3 linked regions of the Homo sapiens genome follow. The protein of the gene in region 3 interacts with the protein of the main gene of each other region in a biochemical or structural test. Each region holds a gene or a part of one and is shown on either strand. Other genes may lie near its edges.

Region 1 (7,027 bases), on a different chromosome or scaffold from region 3:
ACATAGTAATTGCACAATAACTTCTACCTATTATTGAGTTACAACCCAGAGCCTAACACAATATTTGTGGAATGCTTAGGTTCTCAGGCCAGCATACAAGTCTACATTTAACTCTTAAATAAAATAACAGTTTCAAATTGAGTATAATAATGCTAAATGGTGAGACAGGATCAACCCCTCTATCTCCAAATATAGGGGGATTATCTTACCATCCACCTGTTGTATTAGAAAGTCATGCTTCATCTACTTATGGAAGCCAAGACATAGCCTAGATATGTACAAACTATAGATATAACGATGTTAAGGAAAAAAATTGCTGACAATATCACTAGGGATTCTAGACAATGTAAATTGCCATTAATGTTTATTGCTGTGATGGACTTCCTGAACACATTGTTAGAAATTGGTTTGTGGCCAGGTATACAAATAATTCATTGTATGGATTTTATTATTCATCAGTTGATGGACATTTGGGTTGTTTCCACATTTGTTCTCTTATGAATAATGCTTCTGTAAACAGTTGTGTACTAGTTTTTGCATGGAAATATGTTTTCATTTCTTTTGGGTATTTACCTAGTTATGGGTATGCTGCGTCATATGGTAACTCTGTGTTTAACATTTCAGGAACTGATTTCATATCAATTTATATCTCATTCTGTTGTTTTCTTTTTTGGTGTTTTTGCTCCCTAATTTTTTCTTCCGTGTTCCTGTATAAGTTTTATTTTTCACCGTCATCTCAATTCATTCAACAAACATATATCAAGTGCCTACTGCATGCCAGAAACAGAGCCAGGCTTTGGGGAGACTTCAATATTTCAGTGGTGGACTAGGTGTAGTCACTGATCCTGATTTTCCCAGACCCTACCACTTGTGGGGAGACAGAGAAGTACATAACGATTTTAAATTGCTTTGAGATATCTTGTAGTAGAGGAAATACAGAGTGCTATGGGTGTTTATGGAAGAGACATCTCCTGTTTCTTATTTAGTGCTGTATGCGACTTGGGTTAAAAGATCCACACTGATTTCCAGTAGTTGGTATTCCCAGTTGTTGCTATCCTAGAGCCCGATTTGTATGCTAAGATTGCTAATACTGAGTCATGTCAGGTGAATAACTTCCATTTTTAGCAGACTAATCTAATTCCCTTTCATAGTTCAGCTCTCATATTGGAAAAGAACACGAAATAACTGTTAGAAACCTTTTAACATCCTTTAAAATATTTGAAAAAAGAGAAAGCTGGCATGGTGCCTGTTAAACACTGTAGTATTTAAAAGAAAATGTTTGTTGAATGAATAAAAGCATATAGCAGAGTGCTGTATGTACACACAGAGGATGAGCAGTAAATGAATAAATGATGAATTTTCTAAGTGAGTTTCCTGTAGCATGTGACCAAGCAGAATGATTATGAATGAGTTTGACTGCAACGCTTTCTTTGATTATTAGGACTTGTCACCAGGCTTCGGTACCCAGTTAGTGTGAAAGGGAAGAATGCACCCACCACTGCAGGATTCAGCTATGGTAACTCTTATTTTGTGGTTGCATGAGCTAATTTTCCTTGAAAAGAATCCATTGTCATAAGATAAATTTGGATGTGTACTATTTCACATACTGGAACTGTTTTTTATAAGTTTATAGTATAGGTTTTTAGATAATTATACTTAAGACCATAGCAGCCTAGGTATTCAATTTTCATCATTATTCATAATTCCATAGAAAACTTTCTGTCAGTGAAAAATAAGCATTATCATGTTAACATCTAAAATAAATCAAAGCCCTTCCTGGTTCTCACTAGCTTTATTGGCTACAAGAACGTGAGTAAGGATGGAGGTAAGAAAGCAAGCTTCCAACTTAATTGTCTTTGTTGCTTCTGGCAAAAGCCTTTAAAACAGCAAATTAGATTATTTCCAACTTGATGGAATTGAAAAAGAACAACAACAAAAAAAAAACCTGAGAAGGAAGAGTGGTAAAGAAGGAAGTATTTGTTTGACAAAAGTACCTTTAACTTTCAGGCTATATTATTATTAGCTTGTTATGCAGAATTGTCTTGCCTTCTTCATTTCACGTTGGTTAGAAGGGATTCATCCTTCCCACCTTTGGCAGTTCAGATGCAGGTTTCAAGTCTGTTCTGTGTTTTACCAGGAATTATTACAGTGTTATCCTGTAATTTTGAGGTTGATCTTGGTTGTAGGTTCTTTTTCCCCCTCTCTGATTCATGCTACATTTTCCTTTTTAAATATGAACACTTTCACTTTCTGTCCTGCAGAGAAATGGGAGATTAACCCTTCAGAACTGACCTTTATGAGGGAATTGGGAAGTGGACTGTTTGGAGTGGTGAGGCTTGGCAAATGGCGAGCCCAGTACAAAGTCGCAATCAAAGCTATTCGGGAAGGTGCAATGTGCGAGGAGGACTTTATAGAAGAAGCTAAAGTGATGATGTAAGTTGCTATCATCTTTCTGGCTCATCTTTTTGTATTAAGAAGTGGCCCCTTACCAAAAACTTGGTAGTTTCTTTTCCTATAGTAACTATATATATGTCTTCCTTCCCAGGAAACTGACACACCCGAAGTTAGTGCAGCTTTATGGTGTGTGCACCCAGCAGAAACCAATATACATTGTTACTGAGTTCATGGAAAGGGGCTGCCTTCTGAATTTCCTCCGACAGAGACAAGGTCATTTCAGTAGAGACGTACTGCTGAGCATGTGTCAGGATGTGTGTGAAGGGATGGAGTATCTGGAGAGAAACAGCTTCATCCACAGAGATCTGGTAACCCTAGCCACCCATATTCCCACTCATTGGCTGAATTCCTTTGTAACACTGGCTCAGCAAATGTGCAATGATGTATTAATAGCCAATTTTTGTTCTTAACAATCTTTCACCATTATTTTTAAAGTTGGTAAATTTAACTTGCCCTGTAATTTTAAACGAAAGATCTTTATTCAATCTAATGATTTACTTAGTTAATATCTCCAAGCAAGTTTCCATGTTTTAATTTTTCGATCTCCATAAGAATCCCATGAGATAGCTACTCACAGTGGATTCTCTTACCATCATTCTTGTACAGATGAGAAAATTAGCTTCAGGGAAGTCAAAAGGCTCGCCTACTGTGATAAATAGGGAAATTGGGGTTGGCCTTGACTTTCTAACTAGAGCCCAAGTTCTTTTCCACCTCACACACTATAAAAAGAAACTATAAGAGAAATCCTTTGGATTTTTAAAAAATCTCTCAAATCACTGGGAAAACATGGAGGTTCATGTTAACTTCTCAAAATGCTAGAAAAAGAAATCCGTTACCAGTTCTAAATTATGATGGAGACAATTTTTCCCTTCTCACCTGTTCTCACTCTCTCCTCCATTCTTCTTTTCCTTCTGTTTTTCTTCTCTACCTGTTCTTTACAGATGCTTTCAGCTATCAGTAGCACTCTGTCCCCTGAAAATAATCAGCTGAAAATGTCTGTTTTCAGCATATCGGTAGCACTGTCTGTCCCCTGAAAATAATTCTTTTACCAAGAAGAGTGTAATTTTCATTTGGGACTTTCTCCCATATTTTAGTTTTAGCTTTCTAGTGATAAAGCATGGACACATTTCTTTTAGAAAGCAGAAAAACTTTAAAAAAATTTTTTTTTCCTTTGAGACAGGTCTCACTTTGTCTTCCAGGCTGGAGTGCAGTGGCGCAATCTTGGCTCACTGCAGCCTCAACCTCCCGGGTTCAAGCGATCCTCCTGCCTCAGCCCCCAAGTAGCTGAGACTATAGGCACGTGCCACCATGCCTGGCTAATTTTTGTAGAGATGGGGTTTCACCGTGTTGCTCAGACTGGTCTCGAACTCTTGAGCTTAAGCAATCTGCCTGCCTCAGCCTCCCAAGTGCTAGGATTACAGGTGTGAGCCACTGCACCTGGCCTTAGCAAAACATTTTTTAAAGTTAACAGTCACCTTAGACAGACATTGTTCTGATAAGTATTTTACAAATAAACTTGTTTAATCATAATTCTGGGAAGTAGATTTTCTTATTATTCCCTTTTTACAGATGAGGAAACTGAGGTGCAAATAGGATAAAATAACTTCCAATGGGCAAGTAAATTGTAGAGCCAGGATTTGAACCCAGGAAGTTTGGCTCTAAAGTCCCTACTTAACTACTATGCTATGCTCTCTAGAATTAAAACATATTAGAGAATTGAAGATTTGGAGATGGAACACTTTATTTCCTAGGTGTGTTTTGGGATACTTACCTTATCTTATATTCAGTTTCTGTGTCTGTAAATTGTGGGTTATAATGTTGTTTGGCTTCCAGGACTGTTTTAAAGGTCACATTATTTGACTGGGGCAATGGGCTTTGTAAAATAGACATGCTGTAGATAACATCAGTTATTGTTATCATTGTGTCAGGGATGATGAAGAACATCTCGTCAGTTAAAACTTGTGAACTAAGAACTAAGAACAAAATAGATGTCCTTATAAAACTGATAAAAACTGAGTATCTACGTGGGTGTGGCAGATTACACCTGTCCACACAGATGATGTTTTGGCAAAAACGATTCTTACATTTCTGTGCCTGTGATATTGGTATTACTATGGTAGGTTTGTGTCACCCCTTATGGGAAACTTTGGATGCTCTTGTCTCCTTGGTAAAGAATCCTGTTGACCATCCAGTGCAGGCATTGTGGAGTTGTGAAGTGTTTTCATAGGAAGATGCAGGCAGTCCAGGGAATGGATATTAACTCTCACTTTATAAGACTCTTAAAATGCACTCAGCAAGAAGGAACCTCATATGAGTGGAATTGCCACATAGAGAAAATAGAATTATGAACAGTCAGGAAGAAAAACATATCTTGGTCTATGGGTTATGGTATTAAAAATATTATCGGCCAGGTGTGGTGGCTCACGCCTGTAATGCCAGCACTTTTGGAGGCCGAGGCGGGCGGATCACGAAGTCAAGAGATCGAGACCATCCTGGCAAACATGGTGAAACCCTGTCTCTACTAAAAATACAAAAAAAATTAGCCAGGCGTGGTGGCAGACGCCTGTAGTCCCAGCTACTCGGGAGGCTGAGGCAGAAGAATCACTTGAACCCAGGAGGTGGAGGTTGCAGTGAGCCAAGGTCGCACCACTGGACTCCAGCCTGGTGACAGAGCGAGACTCAGTTTCAAAAATAAAAAATTAAAAAATTAAAAAAAAATTCTTGTCTTCCTTTTGAGAAATACCACGTCTTTCTATCAAACTATTTTCTTAAACCTTGTAACCTTGAAGAACATGCAAGAAAATATAAATTAAATAATCCACAATTGTATTTGACCAATTTTGTACATCATGTTATAATATACTGGGAACATAAATGAAAAAGCAAACTGTATTTACACATAGCTGTTCTTTTTGAGACGGAGTCTTGCTCTGTCACCCAGGCTGGAGTGCAGTGGCGCGATCTCTGCTCACTGCAACCTCCACCTCATGGGTTCAAGCAATTCTCCTGCCTCCAGTCCTAGGTAGCTGGTACTACAGTTGTGTGCCACCACACTTGGCTAATTTTTTTTGTATTTTTAGTAGAGAAGGGGTTTTGTCATGTTGGCCAGGCTGGTCCCGAACTCCTGACCTCAAGTTATCCACCCGCCTTAGCCTCCCAAAATGTTGGGATTGCAGGCGTGAGCCACTGCACCCAGCCTGTTCTTTGACTGGGATGAGATGACCAATCACTGAGCAGAAATATTGGATAAGAGATTGGTCGCCCATCATTTTGATGGTTGTGTGTTATTAAGCTCACCTAGTGAGAACCGGATTAAGGACTTCAAGAGATGTTCTCATTGTCAGTAAGAAAATTGGATAGTTTAATAAGAACAGGTCTGGGAAGGAGAAAAGTGAGTTGACCCTTCTATTAGCCCTTGTTTAAGAATGACAGTTGGCCGGTGAGGTTGCTCGTGACTATAATCCTAACAATGGGGGAGGCCGAGGCAGATGGATGAGGTCAGGAGTTCAAGACCAGCCTGGCCAACAAATACAATAATTAGCTGGCTGTGGTGGTGGGTGCCTGTAATCCCAGCTACTCTGGAGGCTGGGGCAGAAGAATCACTTGAAACTGGAAGGTGGAGGTTGCAGTGAGCCAAGATTGTGCCACTGCACTTCCAGCCTGGGCGACAGAGGCAGACTCTGTCTCAAAAAAAAAAAAAAGAAAGAAAAGAAAAAAAAAAGACAATTGGTAAAGATTATGTAATAATGCCTTATTGCAAATACAACTTTCTGACCTGCCTATTCATTTTTTTCAAATACACAATGGAAATACTTCCATAGGGGTAAAAACAACTTATTAAAGGGTGTTTCCACTCTCTGCAAATGTTGACTAGGTTACACTAAATTTAATATAAATAGAACTTACATTTTCCTACTTAAATGATAGAATTTTTAAACTAATATACCATCATAATGTTGTTTTCCAGGCTGCCAGAAATTGTCTAGTAAGTGAGGCGGGAGTTGTAAAAGTATCTGATTTTGGAATGGCCAGGTATGTCCAAGTATACGTGGTTTTAGGTGATGTTTGCATTTTTTTGGTGGAATTAATAAGTGTGGGAATAATTTGCACTGATGAAGCAGAAAGGAAATCTTGTTAACTGGTTCTCAGATTAAATTAAGTATATATTGTGATGGTAGTAATTCTCTCCACTAGGTGGTAGTATAGCCTGTTAAATACACTGTATTTCCTGGTGTGGATTAGATTTCTAGAATCTTTTGTTTTCACAAAAACATATTTGGTGGTGAGGTTCTTAGTATGTCCATGTCTGCAGTGTTTTTCTTCTCTTAATTTTTATAATTTAATAGTATTATAAAATACCTTTTAAAGGTATTTAGTTTATTTTTTCTCTCTTCTCCCTCCGTCTATCCATTCATTCATCCATACATCCACCCATAAAAAATCAGGTGCCTGCTCTGTGCCAGGCATAATGATAAGCTGAACCATATAGAGAATAAGACCTACAAGTCCTTGCCCGCATGCAGCTTACATTGAGGAAGAGGGTGAATCAGAAGACCTGATAAAGTTACATGAT
Region 2 (7,027 bases), on a different chromosome or scaffold from region 3:
GCTACTTGGGAGGCTGAGGCAGGAGAACAGCTTGAACCCAAGAGGCAGAGGTTGCAGTGAGCTGAGATTGTGCCACTGTACTCTAGCCTGGGTGACAGAGCTGACAGAGTGGAGGGACCCTACTTTGGCTAAACTGGAAAGATCATGTTTGATATCACAGCCCCTCAGTTATTGGGCAACCTCACCCATACAGAACACGGGGCGGAGGAGGGGAGCCAGCCCTGCTGTTTCTGGCTTTAGCTCACAGTAAGGGAGGAAGCAAAAGTGGTTTCTCAGGAGCCAAAGATGATTTCCCTAAGAGCTTTCCTTAAAGCTCATATACTACACTCCTAGGAGATGTCCCCTAGCTTTTACTCAGGTCCTATGAACTCTAATTTCACCCACAATTTTAATGAGCTTGGTCATGGGGTCTTTTAGCCTATAGATGTAGCAATTAGTGGCAGTCTGCACAGTACCTGATATACAGTTGGCGATGGATAAATGCTGATGGACCTGGACTACGAAAGGACGTTTCACAGGCAGCTAGCAGCCTGATTGCAAGGAAGGAGACAGAAACAGTCTGAAAAGCAGCTGTAGTGGCACAGAAGTAGTGGGGACACTCAGCATGGGAGCAGACACAGTCCTGTCCCTCAGTCGGCCTGTTTTTGCAATTTTGTCAGTGTGGCCACACAGTATTTATTTATAGCCTGATTTTAGCTGCAGCCGAGTGTTCAGATGCACGCTGCTGTAGGAGTGAGGCAGGGCGGACCAGCCACAGAGGGAGGGAAGGGATAATGTGATTTCTGTGATACACACAGATGATAAAGAGCATCACACCTTGGCAGGAAGTTTGTAAATGAGCCTCAGAGTGGGACCTGTCAGTGAGACAAGGTTGAATCTGAGAATACCAGCTGTCTGAGCGGAGAGGGCACTGGCCTAGCACTGAGTCTAAGGCGCTGGGAAGCCCAGAGAAGGAAGGGTCCTCCCCCTGCCCCCAGTTTGTCGTGGCTCCACTCCCAGCAGGTGGCCAAATTATTGCAAGAAATGTCTGTCTGTATCCTCTGCACAGGGCTGACAAGTGGGGTACTGGCTGAGGACGTGTTCATAGAATAAATGAATGGACAGTGAATGTCTCCATGGTCCATCTCCCTTCCTGAACCCATTTTTTACTTCATTTCACTTTTTTTTTTTTTTGAGAAAGAATCTTACTCTGTCACCCAGGCTGGAGGGCAGTGGCACAATCTCAGCTCACTGCAACCTCCGCCTCCTGGGGTCAGGTGATTCTCCTGTCTCAGCCTCCCGAGTAGCTGGGATTACAGACGTGCGCCGCCACGTCTGTCTAATTTTTGTATTTTTAGTACAGATGAGATTTCACCATGTTGGCCTGGCTGGTCTCGAACTCCTGACCTCAGATGATCCACCCGCCTCAGCCTTCCAAAGTGCTGGGATTACAGGCGTGAGCCGCCGCGCCCAGCACTACATTTCACTTTTGTTATATTCTGCAAATATTTGGTGAGTAGGGCTGTCTACTAGGTGGTCCACGCTGGACCCCTGAGCTTCTTCACCCTGCAACATCTAATCAGATGAATGAAACTGTCTTGACCTGAAGGAAGCCATAGTTCAGTGCCGGGGCTGGAGGAATAACTGGGTCAGGCAAGGAGTGCTCTGAGAGGAGCAGTATCTCAACTGTGCCATCCTCTCCCAGGTCCCCCATCCCCCGCAACCTGTATGTCTATCCAATGGCCTTTGCAAAGATGTCATTAGATATTGTTTTAAGAGGGAAAATCTAGTTCTGGACCAGATTCTATTGAGATCCACATCCTATTCCTTTTAGGGTAGTTAAAAGGAAAAGTAAGGACCTGGGGAGGCTGGGTCACATGCACTGCAGTGACTGTCACCCACCCTTTGGGTGGGAACCACCAAGGGGGTATGGGGACAATAGGCCTGAACTTTCCCCTTGACATGTGGGTGTATCTCTCCTTTGAGGCTGGGCTCTGGCTCTATCTAGAAACCCCTGTGCCACACTGGGAGGAGCTGAGCCTCCCCAAGCCCATTTAACAGGTGACAGCACCGCTGCCGAGTGGGGCAGTGACTCACCAGCTTCACACAGTGGGACCAGCTGGGCTGGTCTGCCCCTTCCCTATGTGGCACTCAGCCACTGGTGCCTTTTCCCTTCCCAGTTCTGAGATGCTGAGGTGCCCATTTATGAGGCTACAGAGAAGGGGACTGAGGGGCCCTACTCTGATCTGTCATAAAGCTGCCTGTCCCTACCCCCAGACCTGTCTACCATGGCCCAGGGGCATCAGGAGAGCCTGACATTTGCTGGGCACCTGTTCCATCCTGGGCATTTAAAGAGAGATATATATATATATATACACACACACACACACACACACACACATACACACACACACTTTCTAAAGAAACAAAATCAACTAATATAAGATCCTAAAAGGAAAGTGGGGAAATGGAGAAAAATAGGAAAAGAAGAAGCACCTTTAGTCTCATCACACAACTGCTAATATTATGCTGTGTTTGCATAAGATTGCCTTACATAGGTGCAAGCATATTGTGTACATAATTTTGTATTTTCCCTTTCTTTTACAAATTTTTTATTTTTGCAGAGATGAGGTCTCCCTGTGTTGCCCAGGCTGGTCTCAAACTCTTGGGCTCAAGCAATCCTCCTGCCTTGGCTTCCAGAGTGCTGGGATTACAGGCGTGAGCCACCATGCACGGCCCTCCCTCCTTTTTTTTTCTAGTATTTTAAATTTTATTTTAAATTGTAGCGAAATACACATAAAATGTACCATCTTAACCATTTTTGTGGTGTATGGTTCAGTAGCGCTAGGTTTGTTCACACTTTGCCACCCTCCCCTTTTTTTAGCGTAACTCACTCCATCGGGAACACCTGTGGGTGTGGACATGGGTTCCTCATTTTCAGCAACACCACTGTTCATGGCTGCACAGTTCTCTAGCTTGTGAATTTGGTGACCATGCTGTGATTTTTTTTGCCCAGTCCTCCACTGCTGAACATTTAGGTTACTGCCAATTATTTATTATTCTGGACAGTGACACCATGGGTAGATCTTTGACTATAAAGGTTTTTCACTTGGGGATTATTTCTTTGGGCAGAGGAGGCTAATGGCTATTTTCCAGGGAAGGAGGCATTTCTGGGTGAAAGAGTGGGGCCAGTTCTCCAGCCATGGGTACTAGCAGTCACTTTGGGATCCCCCATAGTCCTCTGGTTGGGCAGGAGCTTTTTCACACAGGAAGGAGGGACCCCAGAATGGCCTGGAAGGGTCAGGGCCTGTGGATGGGGCCCTGCTGGAAACCAGAGCCTGCACTGACTTTGTGGAAGGCCTTGCAGCCCAGCAAACTGCTGTGGCTTTGAGGGCCAAGGAGGCCAGTGGCTGAGGAGTGGCCCTGGTGCACTCAGAGCTTGCAGACAGTGCAGGAGGTGGGAGAGAGAGGCCCTGGCCATCCTGCCTTTGCTGCCACCAAGTACCTTCCCGGCACCTGCCTGGCTGCATCTGTCAGAAGCAGTGAGGACGGAGGCTCTCCCTTTCCTGATTGGGAAAGCTCTTTAAGACCTGGTGTTCCCTGTAAAAAGCAGAGAGCCTGGCAGTGCACCTGGTCGGCAACCCGTTGTGAAAAGTGGGGAAATAAGCATTTATACTGGCGCAGGCTTGTAGTATTAACAACAAAAATCTGTGGACGGATGCACAGGGAGCTAATTAAAGTGGTTGCCTGTTGGGAGAATGAGAGAAAGGAGATGGATGAGGGATGAGGCTGAGCGGCTGTGAACGTTTTCAGGATTGATGTTTTTATACTGTTTGATTTTTGAACCATATGAATGTATTAATTATTCAAAAATTAAATCAAACAATTAAAAATGAAAAAGAGGACATTTATTTCAAGTCCCATGAAGAATTTTTCCCTGAATCCCAGCTACTTACATCATCCCCTGAGGAGCAGCAATGCTGCCATTTGCTGAGTGCCTGTTCCATGCCAGGCATGCTGCCATTCAGTCCACATGCCCCCAAACGCATTGTCAGTGTCTTCCTGACTCTGTGATGGGACCTAAGGCACGGCAGGTCTAGGCCCAGACGAGGGTCACCTGTGCAGGGTAGAGCAGGGACTCCCACCTAGGTCTGTCGAACTCTATTGCCCTCTGCCCTGAATTCTAGAGAGTTTGTTCTTGCTTCTACTTTAATTTGTGTAGGATGAAAGGATGCTTCCCTACATGTTAACACTGGTGTCTATGGATTTGGAAGTAGGATTCTCTCCATCCCCCATCTAATTTTCTGCAAGTCAATACAGAGTACCTTTGTCATTAAAAAGAAAATATTTAAAAAGAAAACTAAGCAATTCCTGCTTTCAAGAATGAGTTGGTGTTTCTAGGCCAAATTTGTGGTTTGCTAGCATGCCCTTTTCCACATGCTCGGTGCATATTTTGTGGTACGTGGGCCTCTGGGGACCAAGAACTTCGTTCATCTGTGCCCATTCCACAGGACGTGGCCGGCTGCTCAGGTGTTAGAAGATTGCAGAGGTTTGTGGTCATGCTTGCTTTGCTTTTGCGATGCCTGCAGATGGTCACTGCCAGGATTTGCTGGCTGCAGGGTTCTGGGTCGATTTGGTGTTCTGAATTCAATTTTATTCTTGATAAAAAACAAGATCTGCTTCTTGATGACCCACTTTGTGCTCCAGTCCCCTGGAACCCACATGCTTTTCCTGGCTGCTCCTGACATCTACACAGAACTAGGGCAGCCCCTGGGATGGAGAAGGAGGGCCTTGCTTTGGGCTTTGAAGGGTGGGTGAGGATTTGAGACATGTCAGGAGGACAAACGGCACTCAAGGTGGGAGGTACGGCATGGGCAAAGGTGTGGAAGGGGGTTTGGAAGACAGTTTTCTGGCCCAGAGCATTGTGCAAGGTGACTGGTAGGAAGGGAAGGCACGAGCTGGATTGTGAAAGGTCTCTGCCCTAAGTGGTGGCAGAGATACTTTCTTCTGCCTCTCTGCACCCTCTCTGGTGGTGGCTGTTTCCTCTCATGCAAAAGAGGACAGAGGCTGCGGGCTGTGAGTGGGATGCCCTTCCTCCTCACCCAGAGCCTGGCTGACGCTGCAAACCACATGATGGAGGGAACTTTGGGTGGAAACCAAGACTGCCTCTGCTTCCAGCTAGAGAGCATGATGCCCTGGGCCCTGGGCTGCCCACACCAGGACTCTCCTCTGGGTTGGCTCTGGAAGGTTCCTCCCTCACAGACTCAGTCATGCTCCATCCTCCAGGCTTAGAAGGAAATCGGCTTCTTGGGAGGCCGAGGCGGGTGGATCATCTGAGGTCAGGGGTTCGAGACCAGCCTGGCCACCATGGTGAAACCCTGTCTCTACTAAAACTACAAAAAAATTAGCGGGGCATGGTGGCGCATGCCTGTAATCCCAGCTACTCAGGAGGCTGAGGCAGGAGAATCGCTTGAACCCAGGAGGTGGAGGTTGCAGTGAGCTGAGGTTTCACAATTGCACTCCAGCCTGGGCAAAAGAACGAAACTCCGTCTCAAAAAAAAAAAAAGAAGAAGAAGGAAGCGGGCTTCTTTGAAGCCTCACCCAACCCTCACCCACACTTGCTAGGTGGCCTTGGAGAATCATTTTCCCTTTCTGAACCTCAGTTTCCTCATCTGCAGGATGTCAGGGTCGTCATCACTTAAGATAAGGGCTTTGAGGTTGGGGCGGCTCAGGGCAGTGCTAAGGGACCACCTCCTGCTCACCACAGTGGAGTAGCAGACCAGGAACAGTTCCCAGGGGACCCAGATTTATAATTGGATATGCACCCATAGGGTGAGCCTTATACATAGATCTTGCTGTTTCAGAATGCCTCCTCCAATCATGTTCACCATTGCATGTTATACTCCACCATTAGAGAATCATTCCTTTGGTTTCAAGTAACAAGATGATCTATGTTATCTCACTTAATTCCAACAATAGTCCTGTGAGGTCAGTATTCTTATTCCTGTTTTACAGAGAGGAAACTGAGCCTCTTGGAAGGAATGTGGGCCTGGGGGATGCCACACAGATGGATCGGACTGGGCTGGGCCTGGATGCCACCTTCCCAGGTCTGGGTCAGAGAGCCCTTTGCAGTTAATGGGAGGGTGTGTTGGTTTGCTGAGGCCTGGCACACTGAGCAATGGGTGATGGAACAGGCAGGAGAGCGACAGCTCCTTCCACTGGTGTTGACAGGCCACCCACCATTGGGCAACAGGAAGTGCCAGCTGGAGCCCTGGAGACCAGCAGCCAGTGTGGGGATGTGGTGGCCAGATGGAACTCAGGGCTTCCCAGCTGTGGAAACAGGAACGGGAAACAGCCACACTGGGGAGGAAGTCAGGGGGTGATGGGCTGAGGCAAGAGCATGCCTGCGTGGCTAGAGAGAGTGACCAAGGTGGAGAGTAGTTGGAGATAAGGTAAGAAATAGAACAGTGGCCAGGCGTGGTGGCTCACACCTGTAATCCCAGCACTTTGGGAGGCTGAGGTGGGAAGATCACTTGAACCCAGGAGTTCAAGACCAGTCTGGGCAACATGGTGAAACCACTTCTTAAAAAAAAAAAAAAGTACAAAAATTAGCTGTACCTGGTGGTGCACACCTGTAGTCTCAGCTACTTGGGAAGCTGGAGTGGAAGGGTCACTTGAGCCCAGGAGTTGGAAACTGTAGTGACTGTATGATCGCACCACTGCACTCCAGCCTGGGCAACAGAGCAAGACTGTCTCAAAACAAACAAACAAACAAACAAAAAAAACAAAGAAAGAAAAGAGAAGCAGAGAGCCAGATCTTGTAGGACTGTCATTCTAAAAAATCCCAATGCCCAGGCCACACCCCAGGTCAATTACACCCCGATTTCTGAGGGTAGGACCTGGACATCAGTATTTTTCAAAGTTCCCCAGTGCCTCCATGTGGAACTTTAGCTTGAGAGGCATCAACATAGATAATTGTGGTAATTAATTACCATTGCTGGCCAAGCATGGTGGCTCATGCCTATAATCCCAGCAGTTTGGGAGGCCA
Region 3 (7,027 bases):
GCAATGAAAACTCTTAAAAGTGAATTCACTCTTTCATGCTTCTTCTCCCTACTGATCATGCAAATGAGAATTCTTATCTCATTTTGAAACCCACTAATTTTTGTTTAGTACCAGTTACGTGCCAGGCACTCGCTTAGCCACTTTCCTTATATATTGCTTTATTTGACACCCTTAAAAAACTGTGAGAGTTTTCACAATTTACAGACTAGAAAACTAAAGCTTAGGCAGGCTAAGAGAAAGGCTAAAAGCAGACTCTTCCAAGGCCACATGAAGAATTAAGGCGTGGAATTAAAATTCAAGTCTGTAGAGGCAATATTGTATCGTGGTCAAGAGTATGGGTATTGAACACAGATCGCCTTGCTTAAAATCTTGCCAATTACAAGGGCCAAGCATGGTGGCTCACACCTGCAATTCCAGCACTATGGAAGGCCAAGGCAGGTGGATCACTTGAGTCCAGGAGTTCGAGACCAACTTGGGCAACACAGCAAAACCCCATCTCTACTAAAAATACAAAAATTAACTGTGCCTGGTGGCGCACACCTGTGGCCCCAGCTATTAGGGAGGCTGAGGTGGGAGGATCACTTGAACCTGGGAGGATTACTTGAACCTGGGATTGCAAGGATGCAGTGAGCTGCCATAGCGCCACTGCACTACAGCCTGGGAGACAGAGTGAGACCTTGTCTCAAAAAAGAAAAAAAAAATCTTGCCACTTACTAACTATATGACCTCAGGGAAGTTAGCTAGGCTCTGCGTATTTCAGGTTCGTCGTATATAAAATGGGAGTTAGAAATAGCGCCTATTTCATAGGGTTATTATGAGGATTAAATGAGCTCATAGAGGAAAACTGCTTACAACAGTAATGACACATATTAACGAGCAATACATAATAGCTATCACTATTGATTCCAAGTCCAGTGGTTTTCCCACAGCATCATGACAAATGCTCCTACCCTCCACCCGCCAAGTCACCTTAGGCAGGAAAGAATGACCTAGCCAAAGGACAGCCCACTGGAGGGGTCATGAGAACCACTGGCCAGAGGAGGAGCCGCAAAGAACAGTGGGTCAAAGATCACAAACGCAATGACATGCAAAAATTCCATCCCAGAACGGCTCTCTGTGACGGCTCGGCCCATATTGATGAGGTCCTGAGGGAACTTCTAGGGGAAAGGATATCACATGAGACAGGAAGCAGGTCAGCTCCCCAGTGCCCAAATACTGACCATACACCGAACAATAGCCCCTTAGCTCGAACAAGCTTTGAAGACCTGAAATGCTTACAGCCCATCCCCTGAAAACCCAGTGCCCACAGTGATTACAGGGCGAGGTGAAGGAAGTTCCCAAGGCAAGATGGCTGCTAGAAGGCACGTTGGCTGCTGGAAGGCACGCTGTCCCATCGGCCTTGAAGACAAGACTGACCCCTTACCCCTCCGAGGCTCCTACACTTCCATACTCATTATCGCGCTGTAACCTGGCGGGGAGGGTGACTCAGGACAGAAGCTACCATCCCCTTTACGCAGGTGGGGAACTGAGGTCCACAGAGGATAAATGGCTACTATTTGAGGTCACATAACTAGTCAGTATCCATTCCAAACTAGAATTCAGGACTTCTGAGTCTCAATTCAGTGATATTCTTCAGCATCTTAGTAAGTCTTTTGCGTCAGCATGCGTATTCTTCAAGCACATGCATTTTCTTTCTTTCTTCTGAAATGTTTATTGTCTTCCCTGTGCTAGACTTGGTGCTAGGCACTAGGGATTACAGAAATGATCAGGGCCCTACCACTGCCCTTGCACCTCCAGCAGGCACTGCAGCAGGTGAATGCACAGGACGCACTCAGTAAGTGCTTGCTGATATGAATCCAATTGTCTCATTACTAATGTTCTGTTACAGATTTCAGTTCTTTCTCCAAAAAGGCAATTTTTACATTTTTATAAATGTTCTTTCTTTTCCTGGTCTGAAAAAGAAGACTGAATATTAAGCTAGCTGGTTGCAACTTGGTGTCTCCCAGAATTAGAGGAGAACTGAGACCCCTTTATAAAATCAGGACCCTCAAAGAGATCAAAATCTAAATGATTTGATCTCTAAAATGAGGGCCTGAATTATTCCTCCCATCAGCCCAGAGAAATGGCAAGAAAGCAGGATCTGAGTAAGGAAAAAAGGCTTCCGTGCAGATTTTAAAGCCTCTGGGTGTGACTGTGGAATCCACCATACACCATTGGTCTGGGGTCAAAATATGGGCCCAGAAGCTCCCATAGAAACTTTTCCAGGACCCAGGAAACACTTAGGGCCTTTGCTGAAGCATAATACTGCTCTGTGGAGACATCTCTGCTACCCAAGATAGGTGGGGCTCTCCTGGGGCATGAGCCACTAAGCCCCCAAACCAGAAGACACAACAAATGGGAGAACTGGCTCCTCTAGAACGAACCTAGAGCAATGTGAAAGAGAACATTAGTATATTTAAAATGAAGATATAAAACACAAAACAGAAACCCTAAGGAAAGAAAAGGACCCAAGGATGGAAGGGCAGGCTGAACTGAAAGAGAACTAAGAATTTCTAAAAGTAAAATGTATAGTCATTAAAATTATAAACTCTCACCTGTAATCCTAGTACTTTGGAAGGCTGAGACAGGAGGTCCGCTTGAAACTAGGAGTTTGGTTTCTTTTGAGACATGGTCTTGTTCTGCCACCCAGGCTGGAGTGCAGTGGCACAATCTTGGTTCACTGCAGCCTCGACCTCCCTGGGCTCAAACAATCCTCCCACGTCAGCCTCCCGAGTAGCTGGGACTACAGGAGTGCACCACCATGTCTGGCTAATTTTTGTTATTTGTTTTTTGTTATTTTTGGAGAGGTGAGGTTTCACCATGTTGCCGAAGCTGGTCTCAAACTCCCGAGGCTCAAGCAATCCACCCGCCTTGGCCTCCCAAAGTGTTGGGCTTACATGCATGAGCCAGTGCACCTGGCCATTGAAGCCAGAAGTTTGAGACCATCCAAATATAAAAAATGAATAACCAGGCAAGGTGGCTCATGCTGGTAATCCCAGCAACTTGGGAGGCTGAGGCAGGAAGATCACTTGAGCCCTGGATTAGAGGCTGCAGTGTGCTATATTTGTGCCACTGCACTCCAGCTGGGGCAACACAGCAAGATCCTATCACTTAAAATAATAATAATATAAAAAATTAGGCTGGGAGTGGTGGCTTACTGTGATCCCAGCACTCTGGGAGGCTGAGGCAGGCGGATTACCTAAGGTCAGGAGTTCAAGACTAGCCTGGCCAACATGGTGAAACCCCATCTCTACAAAATACAAAAATTAGCCAGGCGTGGTGGAACATGCCTGTAATCCCAGCTACTCAGGAGGCTAAGGCAGGAGAATCACTTGAACCCGGGAGGGAGCAGTTGCAGTGAGCCAAAATCACACCACTGCACTCCAGCCTAGGCGACAGAGCAAGATTTCATCTCAAAAAAAAAAAAAAAAAAATTAAAAATTAAAACTCGATGAAAAAAGTTCAACAAATGTGGTAACACAGCTAAGCAGCTGAAGCCAATATACCTGACTCAGCCCCCTTGTTCAGTGCCTGTCATTTGCTGGGCACTGTGCTGGGCACAAAGGGCCAAGAGGAATAACATAGAGTCCCAGTTCCCAATCCCCTTCAAGATGCCCCAGCTCACAGGTGAGGAACTATATGAGCAAACACATTTCCCTGCAAGACAGCTGTAATAACGGCTACCATCTACGAGACCCTTGTGCTGGCTGCTTTTCTTACATTATCTCAGTTAAGTCAGTATGGTCAGTGCAAAAGAGAAGGACAGGTGGTGACTACAGTAGACCCCAGAATCTTCTGGTTTTCCCACCCACCGACCATTCCACTGAGCCATCCTGCATCCCCCAAGGTCTCAGGAGAGAACAACTATAATGGAATGCCTGGGCACCCTTTTTACATTTCTACTCAAAAGGAAATTATTTAGATAGATAGACTAACTACAATGAAATAGGCACACAGTGTTGTTACACACAGGACAAGTTTTTACAGAGGCAGAAGCCTTGACCAAAAATTCATGATTGGTTTTGAAAGAGGAAATGTCAACATCCCCCAGAAGCCGCGGGTGGGCGCTGTCTTGACGCCCTTCTTCCTGTTGTGCCCACGGCTGATCCTCCCCAGCTGGCTTCTGCGTAACTCCCACCACAGCTGGGGAAGTACTGACAGGCACTCTTCTTTATCCCAAACCAGGCTCCAACCAGGATCCCGCCACTGGAGGGACATACTTACTTTTGTTTTCCTAACTCTGTGCACCTTCGCACTTCCTGACTTAGGGCAGTGAAGGAAGAGGAAACACCAAAAATATTACAAGACAAGCTTAGTTTGTGGCATTTCCAAGAGATGGGAGCTGAAGGGGCTGGCAGGGTGACCCCAGGCAGCAGACGCCCTCAGTCGCTTTGTAACTCAGCTCGTCGGTGGCCAAGAGAGCTCATGTGCCTCTCCAAAGTGCTTAAGGTCTCAAGAAACCGTCTGTTTCTGGGGAGGATCTGGGACAGGAGCCCATTTTCTCTAAATAACTGAGAGGACTTCAGAAATCTGGTATTAATTACCCCTCGCAGCAACGTGGCTACACAGCACATCATGGTGTGTTTCCTTTACTCTCAGAAGATGGGGCCACCAGTGCGCCAGGCCCTCCAGTTGCTTCTTCCCCTAAGGACTCAGACGGATCTGTCCTAATCGAACCACACACTCCCTCCTGACCTCTCCTGGGGCCAATGGCCTGCTCTGGGAACAGGGCTGGCTGAGGTTAGGGACCTGGCTGCAGCTTTGGAACAAGGTTTTAGCCATACAAAAGGAACAACTGTAGGGATGCGTGCTGTGCTAGGAAATGGACTGGGGGCAGACTCTGAAGTCAGAGGACCCAGCTCACACCCTGCCCATCCCTTCCTGGGAGAGGACTTGGGGTACGAGGCGGGGAGCTGGTAGAGGGTTTGCATGGGTTGGTAAATTTAATTTTTTTCAAGAGGCTGGGTGAGAAATTAGTGTCCCTGGGTTGAAAGTGAACAATCGGGCCGACAGCTGAAGAATGCACAGTGAAATAAATCCTCAACTCCAACTCTCCACGGAGGCCTGGCACAGAGAAGAGCTCTGACGAAGGAGTGACTGTGAGGACACAGTGGAGGCTGACTCCCACAAGTGCATCACTACAGCCACGGTAAGATGTCCCTGACCCTCTCTTCCCCATGGGTTAGGAACCTCTCCCCAGAGCTCCCGTAACACCCTTCTTTCCCAGGCTGCAAAGATATCCTCATCCTAATCCCCAGGACCTGGGAACACATTAGGTTCCATGAGTTACATGGCAATGGAAAATGAAGGTTGCAGATGGAATCAAGGTTGCTAAGCTGTTGACCTTAAAATAGGGAGAGTAGCCTAGATTATACAGGTGGCCCAGTGGAATCACTTTAAGGGTCCTTCAAGGTGGAAGAAGATGCCAGAAGGGAGAATCAGAGAGATGGAAGCTTGAGAAGGATTAAGACCAACACTGCCGGCTTTGGAGGTGGAAGAAGGAAACCACAAGCCAAGATATGCAAGTGGCCTCCTGATACTGGAAAAGACAAGGAAACAAATTCTTCCCAGCGCTGCCAGGAGTAACATCCTCTGCTAACACCTTGATTTCAGCCCAGTGAGATCCATTCTAGACTTCTGACCTCCAGAACTGTAAGATAGTAAACTTGTATGATGTAAACCACTAAGTTTGGAGTAATTTGTTACCGCAGCAATAAGAAACTAATACACTATCATTATGCTTACCCTAATGTAATGCAATTTTTATTTATATGTCTATCACCCCCATCAATAATAATAATAATAGCTAACATTTGTCGAATTTACCCTTACTGTGAGCACTTATTATCTGGTAAGGCCAGCACCAAGTGTTTCATTCACATAAGATATTAAAAAAAAAAGGGTAACTTCAGTTGAACACACAATGAAGGTAAACACAGGGACTTAAGAGTAGGGGAGGGAGTTAAAAGCATCTTCGAGGAGATAAAGACACAGGTGCTTTTTAAAGATGAGTAGCAATTAGCCTGGGAGAGAGGAAGAGCATCCCCCGCAGGGGGAAGAACGTAAGCAGACACTCAGGGAAATGAAACACAGGGCATGTGCCGGCAAGCACTCTGGCAGCTCCACAGCAGGCTGGTAATAATGTCTCTAGCCTGTAAGTCTCCTCGGAGGTCCAGGCCTCCTGCCTGCCTGAAATCTCCACAGGATGCCTCCTAGACATCTCAAATTTAGGATGGCTGATACAGAACTTGATTTTCTCCATGAGCATAATCCTCCTAGTCTTCCTGTCTCCCACAACAACGCCACCATACACCCAGCTGTTCAAGCCAGAACCCCAGGAGTCACCCTTGAGTCCTTTCCCTTGCCTCATTCCAATGTAATCTATCACCAGATCTCATCAATGCTATCTCCAAGATCTAAGTAGGCTCCTCCCACTTCTCTCTACCTCCATTGCTGCTGTCCAGTTCTAAGCCACCATCCTCTTTCCTCCTAAGTGGTCTTCCTGCTTCTACACTTTGCCCCCTATGATCCATCCACTTTTCATAAAAGCAGTCAAAGCAATCTCAAAAATGTCCATCAGGCTGGCCATGGTCGCTCACCTGAGGTCAGGAGTTTGAGACCATCCTGATCAACACGGCGAAACCCCGTCTCTACTAAAAATATAAAAATTAGCCAGGTGTGGTGGTGCATGCCTATCATCCCAGCTACTCAGGAGGCTGAGGCAGGAGAATCACCTGAACCCAGGAGGCAGAGGTTGCAGTGAGCTGAGATCATGCCACTGCACTCCAGACTGGGCAACAGACCTAGACTCTGTCAAAAAAAAAAAAAAAAGAGTCAATCAGATATCACTGCTGAGCTTAAACTCACCAAAGCTTCCCTTTGTACTGGGTGGAGGGACTCTCCCCAGCATGGCTTAGAATCGGCTGTGTGATCTCGTCCCTGCTTCCCTCTCAAACCTCACCTTGCGCCATTCCCCCCATCTCTCCCT

What was found. Proteins that work in one complex are often made in the same cells at the same time.
Region 1: the proteins of ASAP1 (region 3) and TEC form a complex in vitro, tested with the Homo sapiens proteins (one study listed by IntAct).
Region 2: the proteins of ASAP1 (region 3) and PSTPIP1 form a complex in vitro, tested with the Homo sapiens proteins (one study listed by IntAct).

The regions. Positions count from the first base shown.
Region 1 is NC_000004.12:48,140,814-48,147,840, reverse strand, and holds part of TEC (tyrosine-protein kinase Tec), read left to right. Parts: intron 1-1,441; coding exon 1,442-1,516; intron 1,517-2,261; coding exon 2,262-2,433; intron 2,434-2,545; coding exon 2,546-2,762; intron 2,763-6,421; coding exon 6,422-6,486; intron 6,487-7,027.
Region 2 is NC_000015.10:76,998,124-77,005,150, forward strand, and holds part of PSTPIP1 (proline-serine-threonine phosphatase-interacting protein 1), read left to right. Parts: intron 1-7,027. UniProt on the Homo sapiens protein: Involved in regulation of the actin cytoskeleton. May regulate WAS actin-bundling activity. Bridges the interaction between ABL1 and PTPN18 leading to ABL1 dephosphorylation.
Region 3 is NC_000008.11:130,433,651-130,440,677, forward strand, and holds part of ASAP1 (arf-GAP with SH3 domain, ANK repeat and PH domain-containing protein 1), read right to left. Parts: intron 6,693-7,027; exon of another isoform or gene 6,639-6,692; intron 1-6,638. UniProt on the Homo sapiens protein: Possesses phosphatidylinositol 4,5-bisphosphate-dependent GTPase-activating protein activity for ARF1 (ADP ribosylation factor 1) and ARF5 and a lesser activity towards ARF6.